Regions from separate parts of the Homo sapiens genome. Here region 1 is linked to region 2. Evidence: fine-mapped expression QTL. A gene starts in region 2. The other region holds a variant in brackets. All regions are shown on one strand. Distances are between the middles of the regions.

What was found.
Region 1: its variant is fine-mapped to the expression of ACSS1 in whole blood (INTERVAL, PIP above 0.99).

Annotation. Positions count from the first base shown.
Region 1 is chr20:25,026,613-25,029,517 of GRCh38, reverse strand. The region is part of intron 3 of ACSS1 (acyl-CoA synthetase short chain family member 1); the gene reads left to right. Among named protein-coding and RNA genes, the nearest start is that of ACSS1, 30 kb to the left of the region's middle. The variant G/TG (reference allele first, on the strand shown) is at 1,739.
Region 2 is chr20:25,056,619-25,059,523 of GRCh38, reverse strand. It overlaps ACSS1 (acyl-CoA synthetase short chain family member 1), which reads left to right and starts at 1,385. Exons shown (of 14, transcript NM_032501.4): 1 at 1,385-1,755. The coding sequence starts at 1,422. RefSeq lists enhancers at 904-1,509, 2,160-2,289 and silencers at 1,130-1,659, 1,790-2,059.

The sequences.
Region 1 (2,905 bases), 30 kb after region 2:
CCTATGAGTGGGCTTGCTGACTCATGTGGTAATTCCATGTTTAACTTATCAAAGAACTGTAAAACTGTTTTGCTAAGGAGATGCACCATTTTACATTTCCACTAATAGTGTATGCAGGCTCCAGTTTCTCTGCATCTTGTTGTTTTTCACTTTAAAAAATTACAGCCGTCATAGTAAGAATGAAGTTGTATCTCATTGTGGTTTTGATTTGCATTTCCCTAATGACTAATAATATTGAACATCTTTTATGTACTTGTTGGCCATTTGTATGTTTTCACTGGACAAAGTCTACTTAAGCTGTTTGCCCATATTTTAATTGCTTGCTTGTCTTTTTGTTGTTGAGTATGTAAGTTACTTATATATTCTGAATATTAGACCTCTATCAGATATATGATTTGCAAATATTCTCCCATTCTGTGGGTGGTCTTTTCACTTTCTCAGTAGTAAACTTTGGTGTATAAAAGTTTTAAATTTTAATGGAGTCTAATTTATCTATTTTTTATTTTGTTGCTTGTGTCTTTGCTGTATTATTTGAGAAAACATTGCCAAATCTAATGCTGTGAAGATTTTTTCCTATGTTTTCTTTTTTTTTTCTTTTTGAGATGGATTCTCGCTCTGTTGCCAGGCTGGAGTGCAGGGGCATGATCTCAGCTCACTGCAACCTCCGCCTCCTGGGTTCAAGTGATTCTCCTACCTCAGCCTCCCGAGTAGCTGGGATTACAGGCACGTGCCACTGCATCGAGCTAATTTTTGTAGTTTTAGTAGAAACAGGATTTCACCATGTTGACCAGGATGGTCTCGATCTCTTGACCTCGTGATCCGCCCGCCTCGGCCTCCCTGTTCGTATGTTTTCTTCAAAGAATTTAAGTTTTACCTTTTTACATTTAGATCTTTAATTTTGAGTTGATTTTTGTACAGGGTGTGAGGTAAGGGTCCAGTTTCATTCTTTGTCCTATGGCTATCCAGTGGTCCCAGCGCCATTTGCTAAAGAGGCTGTTCTTTTCCCTGTTAAATGGACTTGGTACTCTTGTTGAAAATAATTTGACCATATATGTGAGGGATTATTTCTGGGCTCTCTATCCTATTCCATTTATCCATATGATTACCTATGTATCTATTATTATCTCAGTATCAAACTGTTTTGACACTGTAGCTTTGTAAGTTTTAAAACCAGGAAGCGTGAGTCTCCCAACTTTGTTCTTCTTTTTTCAAGATTGTTTTGGCTCTTCTTGCTTTCTTGTATTTTCATAGGAATTTTAGGATTAGCTTTTCCATTTCTGCAAAAAAAGATGTTGGGATTTTGATTGCATTCAATCTGTAGAAAAATTGGAAGGTATTGCCATATTGACAATATTAATCCACAAACATGGGATATCTTTCCATTTATTTAAGTATTTTAAAATTTCTTTCAACAATATTTTGTGGTATTCAGTGTACAAGTCTTGCATATCCTAGGCTAAATTTATTCCTAAGTATCTTATTCTTTTATGAATTTTTATAAATGGAATTGTTTTCCTAATTTCCTTTACAGATTGTTCATTGCTAATATGTAGAGATACAGCAATTTTTGCATAGTGATCTTGTATATTGCAAATTTAATGATTTATTAGCTCTAATAAATAGTTTTTTTGTGGATTCATTAGGATTTATACATAGTAGATCATATCATCTCTGAATATAGTTTTACTTCTTCTTTTCCAATTTGGATGTCTTTTATTTCTTTTTTTTTTTTTTTTTT[G/TG]CCTGATCACTCTGGCAACAACTTTGTTTACAATGTTGAATTGCAGTGGTGAAAAGTGGGCATCCTTGTTTTGTTCCTGATCTTAGGGGGAAGGCTTCAGTCTTTTACCATTAATATGATGTTAGCTGTGGGTTTTCAGATGCTCTTTATCCATTAAGTTCCCTTCTATTCCTAGTTTTAAGTGTTTGATCATCAAAGGGTGTTGGATTTTGTCAAATGCTTGCTCTGCGTCAATTGAGATGTGTTTTTTCCTTCATTGTAGTAGTGTGATGTATTACAGTGATTAATTGTTGCATGTTGAACCACCCTTCCTTTCCTAGGGTAAGTCCTGATTGGTCATAGTATATTCTGTTAATATGCTGCTGGATACAGTTTGCTAGCATTTTGTGGAAGAGTTTTGTATCATTGTTTATATGAGATATTTGTCTGTAGTTTTCTTTTCTATAGTAATCTTTGTCTGGCTTTAGTATCAGGGTAATGCTGGCCTCATAAAATGAATTTGAAAGTATCTCCTCTTCAATTTTTTGGAAGAGTTTGAGAAGGATTGGTGCTAATTCTTTAAATATTTCATAGAATTCACCAGTGAAGTCATCTGGTTCTGGTCTTTAGAAAGGGAAGAAGATGGGTAAACTGAGACACAGAGAGTTTAAGTGACTTACCTAAGGTCACATACCTAGTAAGTGACAGAGCCAGGAGTTGAACACAGACATTCTGCTGCCATAGTTGATGCTTTCAGCATTATGCTAAGCTGCCCCTTTTCTCTCTTGCTGGTGTGGCCATGGTCACCCAGTGCTTCTGTTGAGATTGTTTGAAACAAGCAATAGCAGTTGACTCTTGGTGACTTCATCATGTGGGGATTTAGTAGCTGGATGCTGGGGCAGCTCCCAGAACCTCAGAATTCCTAAACAACCAAGCATGGGAGGGCAGGGGCCATGACTCTGTCCTGAAGAGGACTCTGCCCTGATATCCTTCAGCCTTTTTGTGCAGCTCTGCAGGTACCAGGTTCCTGGGGACAAGATTCTGTTGAGATGGGTATCTGTGTCCTGTTGGGTCAATGAGGGGCTGTTTTGGTTTTCTATTGCTGTGTCACAAACTACTCCAAAACTTAGTGTTTAATAAAACTGAAAACAATAAATTTTAGTATTCTATTTCATGGGTCTGTGGGAC
Region 2 (2,905 bases):
CCTATCTCTAAAAAAGTATCATAAATAAATAAAGGAGAAAATGCAGGTCAAGCGCTAGCACTGTGCAGGGCATGTGTTATGCTAGTAGATGTCACTGATTCTCCAGCTCTAGGTACACTCCTGTCTTCTCTGGCAGACAGCAGCATTCCCCAGCAGGGGCTGGTGGCTAGCCCACGCAGAGGCTCCTCCAATGGCAGGCTCCTCCCCTCTGCAAGCCCTACAGCTCAAGGGAAAGAAACTTTCCCATCACAGAGAACTCAATAAACCAGTTTTCCAAAATCTCTCTTCCCTGTGTTTACCCGTTTGTTATGAATTTACTTCTTGGGTGTCAGAATATTTAAGAACTCGGTGGAGACCAGTTTTATACGTTTCCTTCTGTCCTTCCTGGCTCCACAGCTGCAAAAACATCATCCCCACTACTGAGCTTACTATGGGGCCACGCAAGGGTAGACGCTTGACAGACATTGTCCAATGTATTCCTTACTGCAGCTGCCCACCCCCGCCGTCCCCGCCCCCCAGGGAGACATTACTTCCGTCTTCCCCAAAAGGAAAACGAGGCACCGAGAAGTTAAGGAACTTGCTCAAGGTCACAGAGTTTGAACTCAGGCTACAGATGCTGCAGCAACTGGAGAAAGTCCTCATCGCCCCATATCACCCACCACCGACCCCCAGCAGGACGTGACCCCCGCCAGGACGGAGGCCGGCAGCTGGGGGGCTGGAGCATGGGACCCAGAACACGGACTCAGGCTTGCGCAGCCTCCTGGCTTCTAGGCGGGAGCCTAGAAAGGCGCCAGCCCCTTTCGCGTGCTGCTGAGACTCCAGGGGTGGGGTTCACTCTCAGGGGCGCACAAAGGCATGAAAACCTTGGCTTCAGCCTCTGAGATGCGGAACTGACCGACCTATTGTCTTGGGACCCACCAGTGCGCTTGGGTGCACCAGCCCCCTTAACGTTGGTGCCGGCTCCCTCCCGGCTCCTCCCCATCCCAGAGGGTCCCCTCGCCCCAGGCCCTGAGCCTGCGTCCTGGGGTCCTGGGCCGCACGTGCCTCTGGCAGCTCGAAGAAGCTGTCGGGGCTTGCAGGAGAGCGTGCAAACTGAAACCAAAACAGGCCGACTCGAGGAACATCCGGGTGGGACCGCAGACTCACCGGAGCGCAGCGCCTGGGCCAGGGCCTGGGACCCTGCTCCGCCCCGCGCTCCCCTGCACCCCTTCCCCACGCTGCTCCCCTCTTCCTAAGCGGCCCCCCCTCTCCCGGGCAGCAGAAGAAGGGGTGGGACCCGGGCGGGCTCCGGGAGGGGGCCCTGGAGGAATGGATGGTGGCGGAAGGGCGGAGCAGGGGCGGGGCCCGCGGAGACTCCACGGGGCGCCCCGGGCGTGAGGCACCCACTCTGGGAGCACAGAGAGCTCAGGTAGCCTGCCTAGATGGCGGCGCGCACCCTGGGCCGCGGCGTCGGGAGGCTGCTGGGCAGCCTGCGAGGGCTCTCGGGGCAGCCCGCGCGGCCGCCGTGCGGGGTGAGCGCGCCGCGCAGGGCGGCCTCGGGACCCTCGGGCAGCGCTCCCGCAGTTGCAGCAGCAGCAGCACAGCCAGGCTCGTATCCCGCGCTGAGTGCACAGGCAGCCCGGGAGCCGGCCGCCTTCTGGGGGCCTCTGGCGCGGGACACTCTCGTGTGGGACACCCCCTACCACACCGTCTGGGACTGCGACTTCAGCACTGGCAAGATCGGCTGGTTCCTGGGAGGCCAGTTAAATGTCTCTGGTGAGTGGGCTTCGGGAGACCCAGGACGCCCCCAACTCTTGGGTCCCGAGGGGACTCGGAGCCTCTCGCCAGCGGCAGCCGTCCCCGGGCAGCGCGGATCGCAGCCCTGCAGGGGCCCCTCCTCCGGTATTCCGTCCGCCCCGCCCGCTCTAAGCAGTGGCTCCACGTCACCCCGTCCCTCATCCCATCGGGCCCCAGATCCACGTGCCCAGCTCGGGCCGGCGCCCGCGGGGACCCGGCGGCCGCTTGGGACGCCCCGCTGCTGGCCTTGCTCGGCGCGGCTCCTCGCTCGGCGGACTCCAGAGTTGCGTTACCGGGTGCATAGCGCCGCTGAGCAAGAGCCGGCGGGGAGCCGCGGGCTACACCCGAGCGCCCCGGAGTCGGGACTTTCCCGTTCCCATACCGGGGTGGAGGGAAAAACAAAGCGGTGGCGGTTGTCACTGCGGGCTGCGGTGCCCGGGGATCAGCCTGGGGACAAGCCCTGCCCACGTAAACAAACAGAGCTGTGGCGGGCGACCTGGGGAGGAGGAAACTCGGCGTGGCAGCTGGAACCAGTTATTTCTTCGCTGCGGGCCTGGGGCCTGGGGCCTGTGGACGGGAAGGAAGTAACGGCGGCCTCCCCGTTCTCGTTCTCGGCCTCAGAGAACTGCACCCCAGCGACCTGGGGCCTGCTTTGGACCCGCGGGGTCTGACGTCGGCCCCAAACAGTTGACTGGTGGTCAGTTGTTTGGAACTTGCTGAGCAGAGGCCCTGCTGCTCTGCTAAGATTTGGGGCTGGGGGTCGTACACAGCACCCTCGCCCCCACCTAAGGCGCTGACTGGGCACCGAGGGGGAGGCCCTGAACTGCAGGCAGGGCTGGCCACGCAGGGTGGGTGCCAAGTGCGAGGTGGGCTCCGGATGCAGGGTGGGCCTGGGTGTGGGGCCTGCGGGGAGGGGCTGGCAGACACGGTGTTGATCAGAGGGATGCAGACCAGAAGGGTGGTCATAACCAGCTTGCTGGATTTGGGAGTGTTTAAGAAAGGACCTGCGGGTCTTTATGGCAGGGTCACCAGGGCCCCATTTTCTCCAACTCCTCCCTCAGTTGTCCTTGTTGTTCTGCCCCCCCAGCCCTCAGTCTCCTCATTGTGAGGATGGGGGCAGTCATGCTCA